5 separate regions of the Homo sapiens genome follow, and all the other regions are linked to region 1. The links come from fine-mapping of genetic effects on gene expression. A gene starts in region 1. Each other region holds a variant in brackets. All regions are shown on one strand. Distances are from middle to middle.

Region 1 (5,104 bases):
TGGGGCAAATGATTTTTTTTTTTTTTGAGACGGAGTCTCACTCTGTCACCTAGGCTGGAGAGCAGTGGCATGATCTCGGCTCACTGCAACCTCCACCTCCCAGGTTCAAGCCTCCAGAGTAGCTGGGATTACAGACATGTGTCACCACGCCCAGCTAATTTTTGCATTTTTTTTTTTTTAGTAGAGATGGGGTTTCACCATGTTGGCCAGGCTGGTTTCGAACTCCCGACCTCAGGTGATCCACCCACCTTGGCCTCCCAAAATGCTGGGATTACAGGCGCGAGCCACCGCGCCCAGCTGCAAGTGATGTTTTTAAAAGGGCAAATAGGCTGGGTGTGGTGTCTCACGCCTGTAATCCCAGCACTTTGGGAGGCTGAGGCGGGCAGATTACGAGATGAGGAGATCGAGACCATTCTGGCTAACGCAGTGAAACCCCGTCTCTACTAAAAATACAGAAAATTAGCCGGGCATGGTGGCACGCGCCTGTAGTCCCAGCTACTCGGGAGGGTGAGGCAGGAGAATCACTTAAACCCAGGAGGCGGAGGTTGCAGTGAGCCAAGATCATACCACTGCACTCCAGCCTGGGCAATAGAGCAAGACTCAGTCTCAAAAGAAAAAAAAAAAGTTTCATTTTGGTGAATATTTGGGTAAACAGTTCAAAGTTGTAGTCTTATCAGAACTTTACCCTTCTTCCCCTTGACTTCCCAAGGCGGCCTACAGGATACAGGGGAAGCCTCAAGGCAGCGGTGGGAGGGGAGATCTGTGTGCGGGATTTCAAGCTATAGCCTGGGTTCTCACTGGCCTCTGCTGCTATGTCTCTGGTGACTTCTGGTCTCCACTGCCCTGCAGGCATCAGCTGCTGAGGTGGTTGGTTGGCAAGCTCATGACCTGTTGCTTTAGCACCTTCAGAGTTTGATGTCTCATCTTTCATCCCCACTCCTCCATCCCCGCTCCTCTCACCAGCTGACTTAGGGGTGCTTCAGCTCCACTGGTATCTTCAGTACTGCCTATCCTTGGGGTCTTAGCTACGTTCTGTAGCCATTCCCTGGCCATCAGCCCACCACAAGGCCTCTGCTTTAGGAAACCTGCCCCCTGGCACAGTGCCTATTGGTCTGTCCATGGCTCTTAACCATGCTACTTTCTGCATGCCAGGCAGGGAGCAACAAGAGAAGTCTGGAATTCTGACATACCTAAATGTGCAAGCTGCAGCGCTCCAGCAGCACTATTGCAGACTCCTCCCAACGCCATGGCCTGCTCCCAAGCCCTACTGTGTGAGCCTTCTCACAGACTTGGACAGCCTTCCAAGCTACACCAAGGGAAGTCAGCTTCTAGCTTTCTTGGCACTTATCTGGGTATTTCTATGCTTTCCACCTCACTGTTAAACCCTAAGAGTAGGGGAACACCAACACACTCATCCTGACCTGTGACCTCACCCCCTTCTCCATGAAATTTGTTTATCTCCCCAGTTCCTATTATCTCTTGAGTCTTAGCTTAAGGTTCAAGGAAGCCTTTCTTAGTTTTTTTTTTTTTTGAGATGGAGTTTCACTTTTGTTGCCCATGTTGGAGTGCAATGGCTCACTGCAACCTCCACCTCCCGAGTTCAAGTGACTGTCCTGCCTCAGCTTCCCAAGTAGTTAGGATTACAGGCATGCCCAAATACACCTGGCTAATTTTTGTATTTTTAGTAGAGACGGGGTTTCACCATGTTGGCCAGGTTGGTCTTGAACTCCTGACCTCAGGTGATCCGCCCGCCTCAGCCTCCCAAAGTGCTGGGATTACAGGCATGAGCCACCGTGCCCAGCCAGGAGGATCTCTCGAGCCCGGAAGTGTGAGACTAGCTGTGGTGATAGTGAGACCTGTCTAAAAAAACCAAAATTAGCCTGGGGGTGGTGGTTCACGCCTGTAATCCCAGCACTTTGGGAGGCTGAGGCGGGTGGATCACCTAAGGTCAGGAGTTCGAGAGCAGCCTGGCCAACATGGTGAAACCCTGTCTCTACTAAAAATACAAAAATCAGCCAGGCGTGGTGGCGCGCGCCTTGTAATCCCAGCTACTTGGGAGGCTGAGGCAGGAGAATCGCTTGAACCCGGGAGGCGGAGGCTGCAGTGAGCCAAGATCATGCCACTGCACTCCAGCCTGGCAACAGAGGGAGACTCTATCTCAAAAAAAAAAAAAAACACAAAAAACAAAACACCACTTATATTTATTATGCGTTGATAAAAACATTAAATACATTAAAAATTTGGTAACATGTATGTAAAGTATAAAAAAAAAAGTGAACTTCCTAAACCCACCACTCAGCTCCAGTAGTAAATCGTTATACAGTGAGAAGGGATTGAAGGGGAACAGAAGTTCCCCAAGACCAGTTGGGAGGCTATTCATAGTCTTGGGCAGAGAGATTACAGGGTCTTGGGTAGGGTGGTAGAGTTACAACGAAAGAGAATGTTGGCCTCAAGTGATATTTAGGTGGAAAACTGGACTTGGATTGTCACTAGCTAGTGTGACTGAGATAAGTCTCAAGCCTTCCCTGCCTCAGTTTCTTCATCTGTAAAATGGGCTAGAAATAACTACTGTTATTTTGTATACCCAGCACTTAGCACATGGGTTGGCACAAAGATGGCACACACAAACATCATAGTCACTATTGTGATTAATAGGGAAGCTCATACACGCCGGCAGAATGAATATTCTGTCAAACTTGGGGTTGAAATTCGCCATCTTCTGGGGCAGGAAAGTGATGGACGACTGTGCCTTTGCAAGAATCGACGCCCACACTGCCCAGGAAGTGCCCTCGCGGGCCGGGGTCCCAGCCCGGACCAGCCCCGCCCCGCCCCGCCCCGCCCTCATCCCTGGGAGCTCCGCCCCGAGGCCGCGCGCGCCGCCGCGCGCGCCCCGACGCGCCCAGCTGCTGACGTGCGGGGCGGAACGCGCCGGGCGGGCTCCACCGCGCCGTGTGCTTCCGCAGGTTGCGGGGGTCGCTGGGGCCTTGTGGCGGGGCAGCTCCGCGGGGCTTCGCCCGCTCTCTCACCTCGCCGTGCTCTCTCGCGGCGGCCGGCGGGGCCCGCGCTGCAGCCGGAGACCCGGAGAAAGGGTGAGTGTTGGCGGGCGCAGGAAGGGACCGGCCGGGAGCGCGCCCCGCTCTCCGGGGCATTGTTTGGGCGGGGGCGGCGCGGGCACGTGCGCGCCCCTCCCCCATCGGCAGGCAGCGCGGCAGCGGGACCCGGTGAGGCCCCGGGGCCGAGGGGAGGGCAGGGAGGATCCCAGGTGCGGGCCGGGGAGCCGCAGAAGCGGGAGCCTGGAATTGGAACGTGAGTTGGGGGCTTCCTCTTCAGCGGGGCGCTGCGCTGAGGGGATACGGGACCCCGAGCCACAGCGGCCGGAGCTTTTAGGATGTTAAGCTCTTGGCCTTGGAGGCAAGATTTGGCCCCAGCACCAGAAAGTCGTGGGTTTACCGAAAGGATCCTGGAATGCCCCTCCAACCTGTCGCCATCCCCACCGGGCCTCCCTGGGATGGAGGGGAGGGGTCAGAGAGGCTTTGGGGGTCCAGGGATGGGGCCGGGGCCAACGCGCCGGAGCTGCGGGCAGTGCGGGGCGGAGTGGAAGCCTCGGAAAGTGAGGACTCCTGCAGGAAAGGCTGGCTTGAAGGGCTGTGGCCAGACTGCAGAAGACAATGAGGTTTTCTCCATCATGAATGTGATTATGTTAAGAAATAGAAACCAGAGGAAGAGAAATGCCATCAGCAATCTTACAGGCCTGACACATCATTTTTTTTTAGTTTGATGTTGGCTAGTATTTTCATCTAAGCATTCAGCAGTTACAGAGTTGACCCACGTTTTCCATTCCCTTTTCTCGCTCACATGTAAAAAATGCGGTATAATATTATATAGAATTCAGCAATATCATTTCCCCTTTCTTAATGAGTAGAGGGTATTCAGCGTAGAAAAATTTAAAAATACAAGCAAAGCCAGAGAAAAATGCCCGCAGTTTTACGATCTAGAGATACTACCCTTGGATGTATATTCCTGTTTGTGTATACTCTTTAAAAGATAGGGCAGATGATGCCCTGATAAGGAGTTTAGTTTTTCCCGGGAAGCCTTTGAAGGTTTTGAGAAGGCGAGTAGCATGATCCGACTGCTATGTAGAGGAAGAGGGCTGGGGAGGAACCTACGAGGTCAGTTACTGTGCTCTTTGCAGTAGCTTGGACTAGGCCCGTGGCAGGGAGATGGGGAAGTATAAACAGATTTTTAAATGTTTTAAGGTAGAATGAACAAGACTTGGATTGGTGAGGGAATGGTGGGAATCTTTGCTTTTTTGATTTTTGTTTTGAGCAACTGAGTAGGTGGTGGTGCTGTTTACTGAGATGAAGAATGGAAGAGAGAAATTTGAGGTGGGAAAAACGAATTCTATTTTAGATGTATTAAATTTTAGATGCATGTTAGTTATGAAGTCGGTGTGTTGAGGCAGTTGGATGTAGAGGGCTGGAACTCAAGGAGGAGAGAGGCTAGAGCTAGAGATAAAAATCTGGGAGTGGCTGGGCGCGGTGCTCACACCTGAAATCCCAGCACTTTGAGAGACCGAGGCGGGTCGCTTGAGCCCAGATATTCTAGACCAGCCTTGGCTACAAGGCAGGAAGGACCCCGTCTCTTAAAAAAAAAAAAAATTGGGAGTGATCTGTACGTAGATGATATTCAAAGGTATGGTGCTGTGTGAGATCACTGAGGGGAAAGAGTGTGGAGAAGTGAAAAGGGCGCAGACACTCAAATACCTCTAGGTCTGGTAGAGGAAGAAGGTTGGGGAAAGGACGCAGGAAACAGCAAGTGAGGTAGGAGAAAAAGCTCCTACCAAAATGGCATGTATCATGGCAGCCAAAAGAGGTGTTTCTGGAAGATGTTGAATTGGTCCTTTTATCAGGGCTTCTGAGATGTTCATTAAGATTGTCAATTGAATTTGGCAACACGGTGGTTATTGGTTTTGGTCATTGGTCTTCCTGTCCATAGTTCTGGAAGTGGGAGGTGGGAACCGGATGTGAGGAAATGAAACTAATGAGTGCAAATTAGAAAAAAAGTGCCCCATTTCCATCTGCCCCAAAACTAAACTTAATCGATG
Region 2 (5,104 bases), 310 kb before region 1:
AGGGTTGTGTCTAGGCTCAAAAAATGCTAGACTTTTAGTCAGAACAGCCTCTCTTCATTCCCAATCAAATGCTTGATGGAAATCCCTTAAATGAGCTAAGAGTAAAAGACAATTCTCCCAGAGAACAAACAACCTCAGCAACGCTCGGGAACCCTTAGAACTAAGACCTTTGTAAGGCTGAATCTTGGAAGAACATCCAAAGGAACATTGGAAGAACATCATGGTGGCAGCTGATGTCAGTAGTTGTCTCTTTTTCTTTCCTCAAAATCTTTTCAGCTCTGTTATTTACAACCACAAAGAAATGTGCTCCTTTGGGAAAGATCAGATTGCACCAAACAGCAAAGGGAATAATATGTATGAGATCCCACCCTCTTCTGGCAGGATAGGCCTCAGCCTGTTCTAGTCCCGGGTGAAGCCTAAGGGGTGAGTGAGATTTGAGTATAACATTCCTCAAGGTTCAAGAGGCTGGACCTTCCCATCAAGACCCCCCCATCAAAATCTGGAAATGCAAATGAATGTGCCCCTTACCTGAAAGAATGGCAAATTGTCTGTGAAGTTGTTCTATTATCTCCACCGCCATCAGGGGTCTGACTTCCTGCTGCATAATTTCATCTGCACAAATGAAATACAAAGTGGGTTAGTTAAACATGTGCAAATTACAAGAAGAAATTAAAAAGAAACAAAGGCAAGTTGTACTATTGGGAAATCTGGGACTTATCAAGAGACGGTGCTGGCACAACATTCCCTTGAGAACTTGATTGCTGAGATCCAGGGCTGTATCTGGATTTGTGTGCTTTGGAGCTTATGCATCTGAGCGTGGAACACATTTCTAGAGCCCCTACCAAGGCTTTGGGAGGGACCAATACAAGGAAAGAACCCTGAAGTTTAAGCTCCAGCAGCTTCACAGAAAACCTGCTGGATGACCTCATTACGAAGGCAGGTATTTGCCTACACCTTTGGGTCTGCAGAAGGACATTTTAAACACAAACAACATAAGTTACTAGAGCTCCTTTCAAAACAGGTCATAAAATCAATCTGGGATTCATGAGGGTTCTTTAATTTTTATTTTCCTCCCTACCTCACTTCCTTCCTCCCCTACTTATCTCCATTCCTTTTTTTCCCCCTTCCAGAATACTTTAAGGGGCCTCTTCCTACTGCTAAATGTATATAAGAAGGCACTTTTTCATTTTTCTATTTAAAGATTCTCCTAACTGAATAATAAGTTATATAGGTTTCCAATGCAAAAATCCAATCCTTTCAAGCACAAATCTACAAAGTTCCTCTAACCCTAGAAAGTGACTTATAAGCCCTGTGATTTGCCCTCATTTCCATTTGGGGAAAAGGAATTAGAGAGAGGGGAGGACCAACTGGAATCTTTCAACCTAGGCTGAAGAGAGGAAGGCATTTTCATGTTATCTCTGCCTAAGATATTATCTTCATTCAATTATTTCCCAGGGAATCTTAAAGAATAAACTGGTGGCTGGGTACTGAGGCCGAGGGGGAAGGACTATTTGAGGCCAGAAGTTTGAGACCAGCCTGGTCAACAGAGTAAGATCTTGTCTCCACAAAAAATTTAAAAATTAGCCAAGCATGGTGATGTATGCCTGCGGTCCCAGCTACTTGGGAGGCTGAGGCAGGAGAATCTCTTGAGTCTAGGAGTTTGAGGCTGTCGTTAGCCATGACTGTGCCACTGCACTCCAGCCTGGACAACAGATGGAGACCCTGTCTCAAAACAAAACAAAACAAAACAAAAACAATAACAAAAAATGAATGAACTGGTTATTGTTTCTACAGGAGTTAAACATCTAGTTAGATTAAGGCATGAACCAAACAACCTGTGCTCTGATGCTAGGTGGGAATTTCCTACTGATTCATTATGGGGTCATGGTAACATTATGATATTCTAGTGTTGACCAATCAGAAGGTAATATTTGGGAAGGTCCTCTCTGAGTCTTGGTCTACTCTCAGCTTTTTGGTGTGGAGGTTAAAGGAGATAATATATATGGAGATGTATATAGAGGGTGCTGAGCAAATGCTAGTTATATCCCTTGTTCTGAACAGACAGGCCTTTCCCAAATTTGCTTTCTAAAAGCCTTTTTTTGTTTTTTTCTGAAAGTCTTGTAAGGGGTGGGCCAAGTGCCAGCTTAAGCCCCAAGATCCCCTTCAATGAATTCCCCCATTGTTTTGGGTAAAGGGGATAAATCTAGACCAGAGCTTCTTCATCCCAATACCACTTCCACCCTGAATTCACTAAAAGTTCAAAGAACTCCTTCGTCACTGTTCATTCGGTGGGTGTAATAACGGCATGGTAGTCACATTTTATAAAAAGGGGGCCTTCTCTGTTAGAAACACAAATTGAAGCATTTAACAGTGAAATGATATGAAGTCTGAGATTTGCTGACAAATACTCCAGCACTCCCCTTCACTAAAACTATGCATGGGGTGGAAGTGGGGGGTAGATGAAACATGCTGACAAAATGTGGATAATTATTGAAGCTGGTTGATGGGTCCACAGGGGTTTGTTACATAATTCTCTTGCTACGTTTCAAATTTTCTGTAATAAAATGTAAAACACAAGTAGACAACAACATAGAGAATTTCAGCAGAAACGGAAGTTATGTAATTAAAGAGTTTTCAGAGTACAATCTCCCAGTGGTCTAGGACAGTGGCATACTCAGAAATAGAGCTTCAGTATTATTTGTTCATACCTGAGCATTTTTTTGATTTCT[C/T]TTTTTTAAGATATAGGATCTTGCTCTGTCACACAGACTAGAGTGCAGTGGCATAATCATAGCTCACTGCAGCCTTGAACTCCTGTGCTCAAGCAGTCCTCCTGCCTTGGGCTCCCAAAGTGCTAGAATTAGAGGCACAAACCACCACGCCTGGCCAAGCAAGCATATTTCAGAGATGATGAACCGAGAGAAAAACAAAAATCATAAGGTGTAATTTATTGTTCTTACATGTCAATATTTGAGGTGTGCTTTAAATTAAACATTTTAAAGATGTAAGATCTGAAAGGGGAGCAGACATTAGCGAAGTCAACGATCCCCACGCCATCTCATTTTTCAAATGACAACATGGAGACCCAGAGAGATCCTAAACTTGCCTGTGGTTACACAACAAATAACTGTAGAGCCCGGATCACCTGACGCTAAGAGGGCAAACCTCGGCCACGCGTGATAGAGTTCCCAGACCCTTGGCCTTGAGTTGCAAAGGCTCCTGCAACCCTGAGAGGCTGACTAGTGTCATGGGAATCTGAGGTTTGCCCATCCCCCCAGCCCCCGACAAGAGACCTTTCTCGCTAGCCTCCTGTGGCTATCAAATGAACAGGACTAAAATTCATAATTTGTTTTTCTAAGAATAGCAATGAGCTGCTTTGCTTTAAGTGCAGGTTTTGCTGAGAGTGCTTGCTCTCCAGCCAGGAAGTGACATGGTTATCCTTGAAGTCTTCCTAGCAAAGGAGCCACATGACCCAACCTGGCCAGCTGCAACAGATCATGAGGCTTTCCCAGACTCATCCTCTGACTCGGCATGGAGATGACTGCAGATACACCCAGCCTTCAGTTGCCTGACACTTGTGGTCCTGTTGGAATAGGGCATGCTCTGTTCTGCCCCCAGTAAAGTACACTTATGCTCTACACCAAGAGACACAAAGATCACCCTGCGGCTGGCAGGCCCTGCCTCCCACTCCTGTATAGGTAGGTAGGGGAGGAAGTACAAGAAGTCTTTGGTTCTGAAAGAACACCTCCACTGCAATGGGAAAGGATCTGCTTCAGATTCAGACAGGCTTGCATGCAAAGGCCCTTTCTGCCACCTTCTAGATAGGTGATCAGGGCAAGTACACTCTGAGTCTCAGTGTTCTCACCAGTAAAAGGGTTTTTCCTTCTCCCAGGAACAGGTGAGCAGAACCATGACCCACCAAGGCGCTGGTGCCTGTTACACACCTGCCCTGGCCTCACAGAGGTCTGTGGAGGCTTCCTGCTTCTTTGCCATTTTTGGCATGCACAGATTAGGGAGAAACTTGTCTCTTTTTTTTTTTTTTTTTTAAGGTGGAGTTTCGCTCTTGTTGCCCAGGCTGGAGTGCAATGGCATGATCTCGGCTCACTGCAACCTCCACCTCCCGGGTTCAAGCGATTCTCCTGCCTCAGCCTCCTGAGTAGCTGGGATTACAGGCACCTGCCACCACGCCCGGCTAATTTTGTATTTTCAGTAGGGACAGGGTTTCTCCATGTTGGTCAGGCTGGTCTCCAACTTCCGACCTCAGGTGATCCACCCACCTCGGCCTCCCAAAGTGCTGGGATTACAGGTGTGAGCCATTGCGCCTGGCAGAAACTTGTCTCTTTGTTACCCACACAAGGCAAAGGGAAGTGATAATTCAATTTCAACACAATTTCTATCCTGGGCAAACAAATATACTAGGGAAAAACTTGTCTCTTTTCTATCCTTGATAAGTACACAGAAGTGTGACTCTATTTTACCCTGAGCCCACAGTTCCAGAAATACAGACGGTATCAAAGGCCAAACACAACCTCCAGACTCTTACGCGATGAAATAATAGTCCAGCATGTCCCATGGGAATTCCACTGCAGGCAGCAAGCAATATCCCTGTGTTGCCCACTTCCCAGGCTGAGAGAGCAGCATGCGCTCTGGAGCCAGGACCTTTGCTAATGACTGGAGCCATCCTCCTTACAACAGAGGGCAGGAAACAGGGCTGATGATATCTCAACACTGTCTGACTGCTGCAACTGCTAAAGGATAAAGGGCAGTGAGACCCTTAGCCTCCCACTCTTGCTCTTCTGAAATTTCTGTCACACTATGATTTAAAAGATTCAAGTATGATCTGAGGGGAAAAAAAGAAAAAGAACTAAATAAATAAATACCTAGGTTAAGGGGGAAAAAGTATGGTCTGGAGCAGAGAACAGCTGCCCCAAGTTTGGCAGACCCTGTGACATTACTGCTTTGCCCAGAGACTCAAGGGGACAGAAGGAACAGAAGGATCTGCCAGTTGATCAAACTAGATCTCAACAACTGAGTTTGCAACAACGCGTAACAAGCCATGAACCAGGATCTCTGCTCTCAGGCGCTGTGTAACAAGACCCTAACTGTT
Region 3 (5,104 bases), 170 kb before region 1:
CAGGCTTTCTTGGGCAGAGGTCCCTGTGACCTTCCGCAGTGCATTCTGTCCCTGGGTACTCTCGAGACTGGAGAATGGCGATGACTTTTACCAAGCATACTGCCTGCAAACACATTTTTAACAAAGCACCTCCTGCACAGCCCTAAATCCATTAAACCTTGAGTCAACACAGCACATGTTTCTGCGGGCACAGGATTGGGGCTGGGGTTACAGATTAACAGCATCTCAAGGCAGAAGAATTTTTCGTAGTACAGAACAAAATGGAGTTTCTTATGTCTTCTTCATTCCACATATACACAGTAACAGTCTGATCTCTTTCTTTCCCCTACAGGTGGCCCCAGGCATCCAAGGTTCCCCAGAGGGTGCTGGGCCAGTCTTGCCCCCGACACACTCGCACAGAGCACTGCTGGTTCTCAGAACATTGCACTGGGCAGTCCTCCCTGAGGACACCCTCCCCGGAGGCCCTAGCTGCCTTCAGGGTGATGGCTTGTTTCAGGCGTCACTCTGAGGCATGGACAGAGCATGTGCACTGGAGAACACACAGGCTACGCACAGGACCACAGGAGTCAAATCCAGGCTCCCCTCTTACTAGCTGTGGAGACTTTAGCGTTTCCTTAACATTGCTGAATTTTATGCCCCTCATCTATACATTGAGGGTAAAAAGACCTACCTGATTTTTTTTTTTTTTTTTTTGAGATGGAGTCTCACTCTGTCGTCCAGGCTGGAGTGCAATGGTGTGATCTCAGCTCACTGCAACCTCTGCCTCCCGGGTTCAAGCGATTCTCCCACCTCAGCCTCCCAAGTAGCCGGAAGTACAGACGCCCGCCACTACACCTGGCTAATTTTTGTATTTTTAGTAGAGACAGGGGTTTCACCATGTTAGTTAGGCTGGTCTCGAACTCCTGACCTCAGGTGATCCGCCCGCCTCCACCTCCCAAAGTGCTGGGATTACAGGCGTGAGCCACCGTGCCTGGCTAGACTTACATGACTTTAAACAATGTAGTTCAGGCAAAATAGCTGCTACTGGCTGGGCACGGTGGCTCAGGCCTGTAATCCCAGCACTTTGGGAGGCCAAGCCAGGTGGATCACCTGAGGTCAGGAGTTCGAGACCAGCCTGGCCAACATGGTGAAACCCCGTCTCTAATAAAAATGCAAAAATTAGCTGGGTGTGGTGGCACATTCCTGTAATCCCAGCTACTCAGGAGGCTGAGGCAGGAGAATCGCTTGAACCCAGGAGGCAGAGGTTGCGGTGAGCCGAGATGGCGCCACTGCACTCCAGCCTGGGCAACAGAGCAAGACTCTGTCTCAAAAAAAAAGACTCTGGTGAATGCTCTGAAAAGGGCCACTGTGGCTGTCATGTGGACCCAGTAGACTAACCCTGATTGCTTAATGCTTACAGTAGCCACACAGCAACACTGGTTGACCAAATTTAAGTGTGAGAGGGAGTGCATCAAATAGTCAACAGGCTGATTTTATGTAGATGATAGCAAGGAAATAATCCAGCTGGTTTTCTTGCCTAGATTGACTGGCTTCTATGGTGTTGAATAGATATAATCTGTGAGTCTCTGTCCATGACAACAGAAATTCATGTGTGTACATAGTATATCATAGTAGGTGCCTGGCACTTCATCAGGCACCTATAAAATGAAGCAATTATTAGTATTAGCCTGTGAAATATTTCCTCCTTTCTTGGCCCACACCATTTCCAAGAGCCAGGATTGGGCTTCTTAGTGTCGCCTGGAAGGAGACCAAGTAATTTCTGTTGGAGTCTTGGGCAGTTTTTTGTTTGTTTGTTTGTTTGTTTGGTTTTTGTTTTGAGATGGAGTCTCACTCTGTCACGAGGCTGGAGTGCAGTGGTGCGATCTCGGCTCACTGTAACTTCCGCCTCCTAGGTTCAATCGATTCCCTTCTGAGTAGCTGGGACTACAGGCGCACGCCACCAGGCCCAGCTAATTTTTCTATTTTTAGTAGAGACGGGGTTTCACCATGTTGGCCAGCATGGTCTCGATCTCCTGACCCCGTGATCCGCCTGCCTCAGCCTCCCAAAGTGCTGGGATTACAGGCGTGAGCCACC[G/A]CGCCTGGCTTCTTGAGCAGTTTTTGAGAAGTCCTTACATCCAGCTAGTAATGAACAAGAGTGACACACTCATTAGTGCATTTATTCACATATTCATGTATTCCACCAATATTCATAGCATGCCCGCTATGTCCCAGGCATTGCATAAGCCAAGGAGCCAACCCAGGCCATCAAGTCAGACACTGACCACGTGGCTGTCTCATCTGCATTAGCCTCATGCGCATTCATCCTATTGTAAACAAAGGCAATCCTAGGGAAATAAGCAACACTGGACCTTCACCAATGTCTCCTCTAACTGCCACCATGTCACTGCCCCAGAGGGTTCTGTGGGAGCCCCTCCTGGGCTCTTCTCAGGCCCAGGCCAGATGACCAAGCTCCCACTCCAGCATCCCCCTTTTTCCTCACTTTGGCCACGGGACTTAGCCTGGTTTTCTTCTCCTAAGTTGCTGCTTCTAACCAACTGTTATGTACCGTAGGGATCCTTACATCCCAGACCAAATGCAGGGTGAGAATGGTCTCCCTGACCTCACATCTTCTTGCTGCCTGCAGATAAGCTCCCAATCCCTTACTCTTTCATGAGTTGGTTTTTTTTCCCATGAGTTGTTGTTTGTTTTTTTTCCATAAGTTTTTGGGGTACAGGTGGTATTTGGCTACATTTCATGAGGTGTTTTGTTTTGTTTTGTTTTAAATGGAGTTTCACTCTGTCGCCCAGGCTGGAGCGCAGTGGCGCAATCTCAGCTCACTGCAACCTCCCCCTTCCGGGTTCAAGAGATTCTCCTGCCTCAGCCTCCTGAGTAGCTGGGATTACAGGCGCCCACCACCACACCTGGCTAATTTTTTGTATGTTTAATAGAGACGGGGTTTCATCATGTTGGCCAGGCTGGTCTGGAACTCCTGACATCAGGTGATGCACCCGCCTCAGCCTCCCAAAGTGCTGAGATTACAGGTGTGAGCCACTGTGCCCGGCCTCATGAGTTTTTAATAATAAAAATGAAAGTAACAAACATGGCAAACTTCTCAAACAACATGGCAGTGCCCTGATTGAGAAATCATTCTCCTTCAAGATGGAAAAATTTTGCCAAGTCCTTACAGCCATTGTCCCAGGTCCATAGTTTGGGGCTGGCTTGCTTACCTACGACTCAGAAGCCTGAAGGTCCAGTTAAGGAAAGGGAGACCTTTGGCTTCTCTAGAGCCCCTACTGGGTGGCATTCATTTCAAAGATCCCACCGCATGTGAGAACAGGTCCCTTAGGCCTTTCCTCTTAGATGCTTCTCTTACTTTTACCTTTCCAAAAACTAGTTGGGGAAAATGTGTTTCTCCTCATGATTGGCCAATGCATTACGGCCAGATGATTGCAAAGTTCTTCTAGTGGGCAGATCAATCAGTACCTGCCACACCCAAAGTTTCCTCCTAAAAGAAACTGTCCTGTTTCATGGCATCGCTGATTGGTCTGTAAACCCAAGGCACCCACGCTGTAAACTGGCCAGCAGCTCATGACGTTGCCTGGCCTGGTAGGAAAAGCTCTTCCCAAACAGTGATAGAGCTGATTGGCTTGGTCATCGGATTGTCTCTTCCTGCACCAGGAAATTCTGGGAGAGAAGCAATTGGTGGGTAACAGGAAGACACTAAGGGCAGCTGAGTCACACCAATGGTGAAAATTAAGAAGCGTTTATTACTGGGTGGGGCGGGGAGCACTGAGATAATCTGATTCCTGTTCATTTCAGTCCCACAGAGGTGGTACTGACTTCTGCAGATGTTGTAAAAGGACCAGATAAAATGCCATCACTGGCACACTTTTCTCTACCTATAACCCTGAGTTAATTAAAATAAAGCACTGATTCATTTCATCATTCTAATCATGTATCGTATGAACATGATAAAAAAAACTTTTGGCTGGGCATGGTGGTTCACACCTGTAATCCCAGCACTTTGGGAGGCCAAGGCAGGTGGATCACAAGGTCAGGAGTTCAAGACCAGCCTGACCAACATGGTGAAACCCCGTCTCTACTAAAAATACAAAAATTAGCCAGGCATGGTGGTGCACACCTGTAATCCCAGCTACTCGGGAGTCTGAGGCAGGAGAATCACTTGAACCCGGGAGGCGGAGGTTGCAGTGAGCCGAGATTGCACCACTGCACTCCAGCCTGGGCAACAGAGTGAGACTCTCTAAAAAAAAAACACACACACACACACACACACACACTTTTAAACATGGTCTCTTACAATCCTAACCCGGGGGGGAAAATTTAGGAATACCTTAGGGAAATGTTCTCATAGCTCAATGTCAGCCCCATTTATCCAAGGCACAAACTATCCAAAGTAAAGTAAAAACCACACAACTGATGGGAAGACACGTCCATTCCTGGAAATATGCTGTACTTTGAAAACATCATCTCATCTAACTTCATAATAGCTTTCCCTGGAAGGTGGGGTGTTTATCAGCCTAATTTTACAAATGAAAAATCTGAATCTCAGAAAATTTAAGTAACTGGTCCACAGCCACATAGCAAATAAGTGACTGACCCAGGGTTTAAACCTAGGTCTGCTTGCCCGTGTTCTTTCTACTCTGCCACTCTGCCTTATAAGAGATCATTAGCAATAACTGGACATGTTTCACATCTAATGTGACCCCAACAATATCATGCTGCCATTGAGAAGAACAAGGTAGTTTCCACACGCAGACCTGCGGCAATGCCCAAAATAGAATGTGAAGTAAAACTAGTAAGATGCGAAACAGGATGTATAGTGTGCCTACGTTGTGTTAGAAAAAATGGAAGCCTGAGTGGGAGTGATATGCATATAGAGACTGCTATATGCATGGAATATGAAGAACAGCAGGACACTGCAAACAGGCAGTGTCACTGCTTCCCTTCCGGGGTTCTGAATTTGGAATGGGAGTATGTTTTATCCATTCAAAAGAATAAATAATTTTTTGCCGGGTGCGGTGGCTCATGCCTGTAATCCCAGCACTTTGGGAGGCCGAGGCGGGCGGATCACCTGAGGTCGGGAGTTCGAGACCAGCCTGGCCAA
Region 4 (5,104 bases), 150 kb before region 1:
GTACTAATGCATTAGACTAAAGAGCGCTGGAGGTGCTATATAACATTTAAGATATGCTAATATCCAAAGAATTCTGAATGGCAAAGCACATCTGGCTCCCAGATTTTTGGGTAAGGGATTATGGGGCTTTCTGATAATGTTAACAGTTTTCATTTTGGTGTTATTTGTCTACCTTTTCTCACATGCATATCTTTCCATAGTTTACATGCAATTTTGCATCTTGCTTTGCCCCCTGTTTTCATTATAATATTTTTCCTACGGTGCTCCATGCTTTTCATAATGACTATTTATTATATTGCTACCAATTTCAACAGAGGCATAATATGAAAATCATTCTCTCACTGTGGACATTTAGGTTGCTTCCAGTATTTTGTTTTTATACGTGACGTGGTAATCTTTGCATTAAGCATTTTTTCCCAGTTTGGAATATGGACGGCCTACATTTTTTCAGGCACTTTGCTGGATTCTTTTTATTTCATTCAGTCTTCATAATATCAAGTAGATAGCATGGTGTCCATTTCATCCTTGGGGGAGCTCACTTTGATGGGAAGAGTGGTTTCCCCATGATGTCTAAACTGAAAACAGGCCTCTTCACAGAGAACAGAAATGTGGCTAACAGGTCATTTCCTATGACCCCTCAGCTCCCCAAGACTCTTTTGCTAGTGTAGGCTACATAAGCTGAAAATGAGGAGGAAATGTAAAAATCAGAGCCTCCTTGTGCTCATACACACATGCACAGGCAGGATACTGTTGGAACATTCATTCCAGTTTATGTCTGGGGGCTGAGCTGACAGACCCCCATAGCAGCAAGGACCCAGCATGCCTTAGGACATCAGTCTGGATCAAAGGGTTAAAAAAGAGACAAGGAAGCAGGGTCAGGGTGTGCAAGGTGAAAAGACAGTGCGCTCTGAAAATATATGGGACCTCACTGTGGCTAGAACCAGAAACTGGTTCTCACCATTTGGGAAGCCCAGCTCACTGCAAAATATGGCACACTCTGTAAGTGACAGTGACCTGTGAGGGCAGCCCTGCTGTGATTCCCAGGGTTGGCAGAGGGAGGGGAGTCCTAGTGATGAGGGGAGGGGTTATCAGGCTTTTCTCTGCCCTGTCTCATGACTGGCCCTTCCTTCATGCATAGAAAAGCTTCCAGGCTGAGGCTGAGTCATTAGCAATCTCCTTTGTTGATGCTGCTGCCTGGAATCCTTGTCTGGATTCCTGTCTCACTCCTGTCTTGTACCGCAGTCTCTAGGTCTGGTTCCTTGAGGCTATGTTGAGAGGACTTTACCCGCCAGCTACAAAAATCAGGCATAAGGCCAGGAATGGGAAGGTTATTGTGAGCACAATCTATGCACTTGTTAATCATTATTACATATTAACCAATTACTGCATGGCAGAAAAGTGGGGCAAGAGACTACTCTTAAGCCACATGTAGATGTTGTAATCCTGAGCTTTGTCTCCATAATGGGGTAAGATGTCAGAAAAGAGTCAGAAAGCCCAGGTGATAGAATAAGTGCCAAGAACATATACACCATGGAATACTGTGCAGCCATAAAAAGGAATGAGTTCATGTCCTTTGCAGGGACATGGATGAAGCTGGAAACCATCATTCTCAGCAAACTAACACAGCAACAGAAAACCAAACACCGCATGTTCTCACTCATAAGTGGGAGTTGAACAATGAGAACACATGGACACAGGTAGGGGAACAACACAACCCGTGGCCTGTCGGCGGGTGGGGGACAAGGGGAGGGAGAGCATTAGGAAAAATACTTAATGCATTCAGGGCCTAAAACCTAGATGATGGGTTGATAGGTGCAGCAAACCACCATGGCACGTGTATACCTATGTAACAAACCCGCGCATTCTGCACATGTATCCCAGAACTTAAAGTAAAATTTAAACAAATTTTAAAAAAGAGAATAAGTGCCAAGAAAAACAAGAATGAGTTAAGGCCATGTAGGTCTGTATTAAAAATCTGGCTAACAGCAAATGTGTTGAGGATTGCTGCTGCCACAGTGGGTACACTTGAGAACTCAAGTGAAGCCAATGATTGTAACACCAGGGTCAGGCCCTATATTTTCCACTTTTAATATTTTCCAATATTGTGGATCAGAACCAATATGATAGTAAATATTTCAGCATTATATATCTATAATCCCTTATCTGTAGTTTCAAAATTCCCAAAGTGCTGATAAATGTAAAGTTTTTTGTAACTTATTTCATGGCTAAATCCAACTTGAATGGCACTCGTCAGGTCGGGACACCTGAGTCTTGCTCTGTTGCCCCGGCTGGAGTGCAGTGGCATGATCTTGGCTCACTGCAACCTCCGCCTCCCAGATTCAAGCAATTCTCCTGCTTCAGCCTCCCGAGTAGCTGGGACTACAGGC[A/G]TGTGCCACCACGCCCAGCTAATTTTTTGTATTTTTAGTAGAGATGGGGTTTCACCATGTTAGTGCTTGACTCTTAAATAGGAACAGATATCCAAAGACTACCAGATATTTAAGTATAGCCTCTAAAATAAAAGACAGAGGCCAGGTGTGGTGGCTCATGCTTGTAATCCTAGCACTTTGGGAGGCCGGGTCAGGAGGATCCCTTGAGCCCAGGAGTTTGAAACTATCTGGGCAACATAGGGAGACCTTGTCTCTAGGAAATAAATAAATACATACATAAAATAGAATAAAAGAGACAAAAACAAAGAGAAAAATACAGTGAAAACAAACAGTAAAAAACAAACAAAAACAGAAGAGTGGTTTTTTAAAAAATATAAACCTCAAAGAGATTAAGTGAAAATATGACCTATACAAAACAAGAACAGGATGTTATAAAAAGGAAGCTTCATACATAAAACAAGAAAAAAGTCTTGGAAGTTAAAAACTGAGATTCTCAACAGGTTGGAAGATAAAATTGAGAAAAATCTTCCAGAAAGTAAAACAGAAAGATAAGAGGATGGACAACAGGAGAGAGAAGATGAGAAAGCTAGAGACTGTTCTAGAAGTCCACATCTACTGAATAAGTGATCCAGAAATAGTAAACAAGGAAAACAGTAACCATGTAATTACCAGGCAGTAATATGAGGAAATGTTCAGGATTAAAGGATGTGACTCTCCAGATTAAAAGGGTTCATCAAATGCATAGCATAATGGTTGGAGTAAAACACACATACACACACACACACGCACGCACACACACACCCCTCCAAGGCACATCATTGTGAAATATCAAAATGTTATTTAAAATCAAAGAAAGGCCAGGCGTGGTGGGTGGCTCACAGCTGTAATCCCAGCAATTTGGGAGGCGGAGGTGGGTGGATCACCTGAGGTCAGGAGTTCCAGACCAGCCTGGCCAACATGGTGAAACCCTATCTCTACTAAAAAAATACAAAAATTAGCCGGGCATGGTGGTACATCCTGTGGTCCCAGCTACTTGGGGGGCTGAGGTGGAAGAATTGCTTGAGCCCAGGGAGGCTGCAGTGAGCCATGATCAAGCTGCTGCACTCCAGCCTGGGCAACAGACCAAGACCCTGTCTCAAAACAAAACAAAAATATATGCGAGGCCTTAAAAATTTACTTCCTATGGGCTGGGCGCAGTGGCTCACGCCTGTAATCCCAGCACTTTGGGAGGCCAAGGTGGGTGGATCACGAGGTCAGGAGATTGAAACTATCCTGGCTAACATGGTGAAATCCTGTCTGTACTAAAAATAAAAAAAAATTAGCTGGGCGTGGTGGCGGGCGCCTGTAGTCCCAGCCACTAGGGAGGCTGAGGCAGGAGAATGGCATGAACCCAGGAGGCGGAGCTTGCAATGAGCGGAGATACTGCCACTGCACTCCAGCCTGGGCGACAGAGCAAGACTCTGTCTCAGAAAAAAAAAAAAAAAAAAATTACTTCCCATGCACTCTTTCTTAGGAAGTTATTGGAGAATGTGCTTATCAGGGTAAGATGGTAAACCAGGGAAGAGAAAGATAGGGGTTGAAGGGAGAAGGCTCCATTCAACATAGCAGACAGTCCCGGGGAATGATGGAGAAGCAGGTGAATCCCAGCCAGCGTGCAAATCCAGGGAACATGTGTAACATGATGCAAGGCAGGAGGATTCTGAGGAAATGGAACTGGTAGATTGTTTGATGCATTGGACCATATGAAAGATTTTTGTGAGCCTGTGAGCAAAAGACACCCCAAAACAAAGCAAATGAAAAAATGAGTGAATTAATAACTTCAGGAAAGACAAAAGGTTTACAAGAAAAGAAACGTGATCATTGAGTAATTTGGCTCAACAGAGAACAAGGTTTTCGTGAACATAATAATGTAAACTCTTGTTGTGATAACATTATGTTGAAAGATTACAGGGAAGGAAAGCTTATGGTAAGAGGTTAGGTAAGGATACTAAATCCTTATTTGAAATCAGTGAATGATGTCTAACACTGAAAAATCAAGAAAGAGCAGTATAAGTGTATTTTGCAGAAATATAGAGCTAGTGCCAGAAGAAACAAATAGAAGTTGAAAGTGGTAGCCTTTGGCGCATGAGACAGGGTGGAGGAGGAAATAGGAATTTTTGTTTTTTCATTATAAGCCTTTAAATACTATTTAACGCTTTGTTTACTATTTGCATATCTTTAATAAAAAATAAAATTTAATTTTAAAAAAATACATGAAAAACAGAAAGGCAGTGAAGAGACAGTTCAACAAAAAAAGAACTGCAGATGCCCCTTAAACATACGAAGAGATGTTTGATCTTACTAAAAATAAGAAAAATGCAAATTAAAGCTAAATTGAGATATTCTTTCTCATTTATCAGATTGGTAAAACTTCAGCGGTTGGATGACACCCTCTTTTGGTGATGCCGTGGGGGAACGCAACATGATTCAACCCCAATGAAAGAGAAGTTGCAATAACCGCTAAGACTGCAGATGCATTTGACTCAGCAAACCCCCTTCAAGAAATGCATATGAAAAAAACTCATGTTTCAGGTTATTCATTACAACATTGTTTGTAATAGCAAAATGTGGATTAGAAATAGTCCAGATGTCTGTCCGTAGGGGACTGTTTAATAAACTATTGTCAGTCCCTTAGTGGAAAGTAATTATTTTCTCAGTGAATAAAGGAAAAAAATGAC
Region 5 (5,104 bases), 190 kb before region 1:
ATCTAAGGACAACAAAAAAACTAGAAAAGAACACACAGAAAAAGGGAGAAACTCTAAAAGAACCTCAGACAGACAATTCCTGGGCCACGTTTGGCTAAGGCTTCTACCAATGGCCTAATGAAGAAAGCCTGGTAGCTAATCCCAGAACCACTGCATAGTGAGATATATGTATGGGTGTTCATGTGTACAAACTGTTAACAAACTGTCCCTATATCATTACTTCCTCTCCACTAAATTTGTTCTTGTCTTTATAAAGTTCTGAAGAAAAATCTTCTTCAGGAATTGTTAAGGAGAACCAGGTAGATCCAAATGACATGTTTATTCACCGTTCGTAGTACCCATTTAATCATTCAACAAGCATTTACTAATTACTCATTCACTATATAGCAGTCTCAGGACTCTCTTCTAAGATCTAGAGATGTAAAGTGCAATAAGACATATTTCCTACTATAACAAGCTCCCAGTCTAGAGATATTTACATATAATAAATTCAAATCATTGCCATGCAGCAGTTGGTGCTGTGATGGAGCAATGCACCAAGTGCTATGAGAACACGGAGAGTGGCTGGGTGTGGTGGCTCACACCTGTAACCCTAGCACTTTGGGAGGCTGAGATGAGAAGATCACTTAAGCTCAGGAGTTCAAGACCAGCCTGGGCAACATAGTGAGACCTTGTCTCTACAAAATATTTAAAAATTAGCCGGGTGTGGTAGCACATGCCTGTACTCCCAGCTACTTGGATGGCTGAGGTGGGAGGATCACTTAAGCCTGGGAGGTCGAGGCTGCAGTGAGCTATGATTGCACCACTGTACTCCAGCCTGGGCAACAGAGCAAGACCTCCTCTCAAAAATAAATAAATAAATAAATAAATAAATAAATAAATAAATAAATAAAAGGAGAAGTCTCTGGAGAAAGTGATGCTTGGACTGAGTTTTGAAGTAGGAGTAGAAGTCAGCTAGATGAAGAAGAGAAAAGCATTTGAACAACATTCAGATTGACCTGGAGGCAGAAAAAGCACATCCACTTTGGGGAACCACAAGCTGTGCATTAGGACTAGAGCAGAAGTGGGAGGTTGGAGAGGACACTAGAGAAGCAGGCAGGAGATTAATGATGCAAGACCAGGCTCTGGGAACGTAGGCAGGAAGTATGGGCTTTATTCTGAAAGTGATGGGGAGCCAATGAAGAAGGCAAGCCCAGGAGCAAGATGATCAGACTTGAGTTTCAGATCTTTCAGCTGGTGAATAAATTGGAGGGAGGCCAGACTTGGGGGAGGAAGATGAGTTTTGAGAAATTTCCAGAAATTCAGATGGTGAGAGTCTAAATCAAAGTGATGTCAGAGTATATACAAGAGACACAAGATTTCACCAGAGTGGGCAAGGAAGAGCAGCACCCCCATGGAATAGTGACTAGACAGGGCACGTTCTTGTTTTTTTTGTTTTTTGTTTGTTTTGTTTTGCTTTGCTTTTTGAGACAGAGTCTCCCTCTGTTGCCCAGGCTGGAGTGCAGTGGCGTGATCTCGGCTCACTACAACCTCTGCCTCCCGGGTTCAAGTGATCTTCCTGCCTCAGCCTCCCGAGTAGCTGAGACTACAGGTGCATGCCACCATGCCCACCTAATTTTTTTGTATTTTTAAGTAGAGACAGGGTTTCACCATGTTGGCCAGGATGGTCTGGATCTCTTGACCTCGTGATCCACCCGCCCTGGGCCTCCCAAACTGCTGGGATTACAGGTGTGAGCCACCAGGCCCGGCCCAGGGCACATTCTTGTTTGTGCGTGCAGTGTGACCCCCAACCTCCCACCCTTCCACAACTGGGAAGAGGAAGCACGGGCCAGGCATGGTGCTGGGTGATTTCTACATCTCACCTAACGCGCTCAGTAACTGTCTGAACACGTGGGATCGGCCTCATAGATCAGGAATCAGGGCTTCTGGAACTGACCGACTCAGCAATGAACAGGGCAGTGTTTTCTCCTTAATGCCCTAAGGATTTTTGAATCCGCTTTGCTTGCATCTCTGTGAGCCCCTAGCTAACTCCTTACTTCGCTGGTTAAATATAGCACCTCTTATCTTCTACTCACCTCATTGCCAGAAAGGTGGTACATCCTGGCTTCCTGGAGCAGCGGGAAGACCTCTGGGCACTGCCTGATGAGAGGATCTGCTTCCACCGTCTCCACAAAGTACCACGGGTCCAGAAGCGGTAAGCGCACGTTCTCGAGGACATAGGGGAGTAAGCAGAGTCGTTCTGATGGCTTGTGCCGGACCCAGCTCATCACGGTCTCAAACACCTGAGCCTCCTCGGTCACGTAAAGGTCATCACTCTTCAAGATGTGGTGCAGAGTGTCCACGGGCAGGTCAAGAAACTCCTCAGAGTTCAGAATCTGCACAAAGTTTTGAATGATGTAACTCTGAACCTGCTTCTTTAGACTGTCCAGCGAGTGTGTGTCAGCCAGCCTCAGTATTCCAACGCAGTTTTCTGGGTTCAAGGCTTCAGTGAGGAAGCTGGCACAGGCATCCACCATCCGCAGGAACTGATGAAATAGAAAGGGTGGAAAGGAGGCCAGAAAATGGTGAGTCCACAAGGAGGTTTATCAGTGAGTTATGTGTATTAGCCAAAAATTGGAAACAACCTAAATGTCCAACAGTACAGGATGAGCTAAATACATATAATTCATTCATACAGTAGACTTAAAACAATGAGATACTTACTGGACGAGCTAAATACATATAATTCATTCATACAGTCGACAAAACAATGAGATACTTACGGGAGGAGCTAAATACATATAATTCATTCATACAGTCGACTTAAAACAATGAGACACTTACGGGACTAGCTAAATACATATAATTCATTCATACAGTCGA[T/C]AGCTCTGTAGATACTTAAAACACATGTTGTAGAAAATATTAAATGAAATAGAAAATGTTCATAATGTATTGAGTTTTAAAATCTGTTCATTGGATCTGATTAAGCCTCTACATTTACTCAGCAATTTACAGGAAATACAGGGAAAGAGGAACCTGCTAAAGACGTCATGGGAACATGATCAGCAAAATCCAGATTGTGGAAAACTCTACTGAACAACTTGTTCAGTTTCTTCAACAAATACATTACAAGGGGATAAAAGAGAGAGAGAAGGAGAGGGAGAACCTAAAGATAAACAGAGATTTAAGACACATTGACCAATTGCAAAGTATGGATCTTATTTGGATTCCTGATTTAAACAATATATATTTTTTAAAGTTGGAGAAATGTTTACAATGACTAATATTTGGTGCTAATGAAACAATTATGATTCATTTTAGGTGCCATAATGGTTTCATGTTTATGTTGAAGAAGAATCCTTATTTTTTAGAGCTATAAGTGAAATATTTGCAGATAAAATGAGAAAAGCACGTCACAAATCATATGTACATTGTGACCTTATTTTTATAAAGAAAACATACACAGAATAAAGTCATAGAAAGAAGATGAAAGGATGTAGGTCAAAATATTAATGGTTGTTATCTCTTTGGGTTATCAGGTATCTTAAGGCAAATTCTGCTGCAGCAGCAAACAACCCTCACGTCTCAGGGGCTTACAATAAATGTTCCTCTTACCCACTATGTGTTCTTCACGGGGCTCTTCATTCCAGGGGCCAGGAAGATGGAAAGCCCTTACCTGAGACATGCTGGTCCCATGACAGAAGGGGAAAAAGATGGCAGAACCACACAGAGGCTTTTAAAGCTTCTGCTCAGAGGGGGCGCATGCTATATCCATTTACACAAAACCGTCCAGAGTAAGTCACATGGCAAAATTTGTCATCAAGGGAACCATAGTTCTCCCACAGAAACAGGTCTCATGGGATGGACAGGGAATATACTATATAAATAATAGAAGGTATGACACTCTAAGAAGACTATGAGAATTTTTCTGTTTTTGTTTATTTATATGTTTTATTTATTTATATATCCTTTAAAATGAATACGTACCGCTTTTGTCATTAAAAAATCAATTTGTAAAATTATTGATTGGCTCTCAGGTCCCACTTTTAAGTTATCACCATCCTCATAAAAATTCAAGTCCCTTGTGCTTGTAGGGCACTTTACAGATGACAAAGCACTGTTATATCCATTATATTTTGTAATATCCATTTTACAGATGACATGTCTCAAATGCATTGGTTCATTCTTATTTGTTGTTCTCTGGAGCTTAGCTTTGAACAATTTCAACCTCCTAGCTCCCTTCCCCGTCTACTGGACTCCTTATAGGGTCAAGTTCTTGGTGCCCATGGGTTGATCGATTAATGGGGGGAGAGGAAAGGGGAGGCTGAGGGGGCAAGACCTGGTGGGGGTGGGGGAGGCCTTCTGAAGGCAGGTCCTGGTGAGAGTAGGGACAGGACAGACCTGACTGGGGAGGGTTGGCAGGAGCTGTGGGGAGTGGGGCTATCGAGCCTGAAGGTTGATAGTGGGGCAGGACTGGTTCTAAGAGTGGACCAAGGTGACCTAGGCTCTGGACTTTACTCCAGAGCATTCCAGGGAACACATCCCTGACTTTTTGGATCAACCTCTATTGCAAAATATTATCTTTCTGTGTCAGATCACATAGGATTGTCAGTTTAAAAAGCATTTTTTAGGCCGGGCGCGGTGGCTCACGCCTGTAATCCCAGCACTTTGGGAGGCCGAGGCATGCAGATCACCTGAGATCAGGAGTTGGAGACCAGCCTGACCAACATGGAGATACCCCGTCTCTACTAAAAATACAAAATTAGTCAGGCGTGGTGGCACATGCCTGTAATCCCAGCTACTCAGGAGGCTGCAGCAGGAGAATGCTTGAACCTGGGAGGCGGAGGTTGCGGTTAGCTGATATCGTGTCATTGCACTCTAGCCCGGGCAACAAGAGCAAAACTCCATCTCAAAATAAATAAATAAATAAATAAATAAAGCATTTCTCCGAGGGTCAATGCTGAAGGGGGCCAGCCCCTCTACACCTGTGGGTATTTCTCGTCAGGTGGGACGAGAGACTGAGAAAAGAAATAAGACACAGAGGCAAAGTACAGAGAAAGAACAGTGGGCCCAGGGGACCAGCGCTCAGCATACGGAGGACCCTCACCGGCACCAGTCTCTGAGT

Which allele goes with the higher level. Alleles are on the strand shown, and positions count from the first base shown. SD is a standard deviation of normalised expression in the study named. Not every link is listed here.
In carriers of allele C in region 2, the expression in CD8 T cells of the gene that starts at base 2,893 in region 1 tends to be lower than with T alone (large effect, 1.0 SD a copy in CEDAR).

Evidence for each region. PIP is the estimated chance that this variant, and not a neighbour inherited with it, causes the effect.
Region 2: its variant is fine-mapped to the expression of YEATS2 in CD8 T cells (CEDAR, PIP 0.95).
Region 3: its variant is fine-mapped to the expression of YEATS2 in lung (TOPMed, PIP above 0.99).
Region 4: its variant is fine-mapped to the expression of YEATS2 in thyroid (GTEx, PIP above 0.99). The same link has a PIP of 0.9 or more in lung.
Region 5: its variant is fine-mapped to the expression of YEATS2 in lung (TOPMed, PIP above 0.99). The same link has a PIP of 0.9 or more in thyroid.

The regions. Positions count from the first base shown.
Region 1 is chr3:183,694,905-183,700,008 of GRCh38, forward strand. It overlaps YEATS2 (YEATS domain containing 2), which reads left to right and starts at 2,893. Exons shown (of 31, transcript NM_018023.5): 1 at 2,893-3,089. RefSeq lists a silencer at 2,798-3,267.
Region 2 is chr3:183,389,168-183,394,271 of GRCh38, forward strand. It overlaps MCF2L2 (MCF.2 cell line derived transforming sequence-like 2), which reads right to left. Exons shown (of 30, transcript NM_015078.4): 2 at 529-612. Among named protein-coding and RNA genes, the nearest start is that of MCF2L2, 37 kb to the right of the region's middle. The variant C/T (reference allele first, on the strand shown) is at 2,730.
Region 3 is chr3:183,521,019-183,526,122 of GRCh38, forward strand. The region is part of intron 2 of KLHL6 (kelch like family member 6); the gene reads right to left. Among named protein-coding and RNA genes, the nearest start is that of KLHL6-AS1, 25 kb to the right of the region's middle. The variant G/A (reference allele first, on the strand shown) is at 2,075.
Region 4 is chr3:183,547,267-183,552,370 of GRCh38, forward strand. The region is part of intron 1 of KLHL6 (kelch like family member 6); the gene reads right to left. KLHL6-AS1 (KLHL6 antisense RNA 1) reads left to right here and starts at 1,469. Exons shown (of 2, transcript NR_046687.1): 1 at 1,469-1,697; 2 at 4,787-5,060. The variant A/G (reference allele first, on the strand shown) is at 2,388.
Region 5 is chr3:183,505,984-183,511,087 of GRCh38, forward strand. KLHL6 (kelch like family member 6) reads right to left here. Exons shown (of 7, transcript NM_130446.4): 3 at 2,076-2,525. Among named protein-coding and RNA genes, the nearest start is that of KLHL6-AS1, 40 kb to the right of the region's middle. RefSeq lists an enhancer at 1,845-3,044. The variant T/C (reference allele first, on the strand shown) is at 2,863.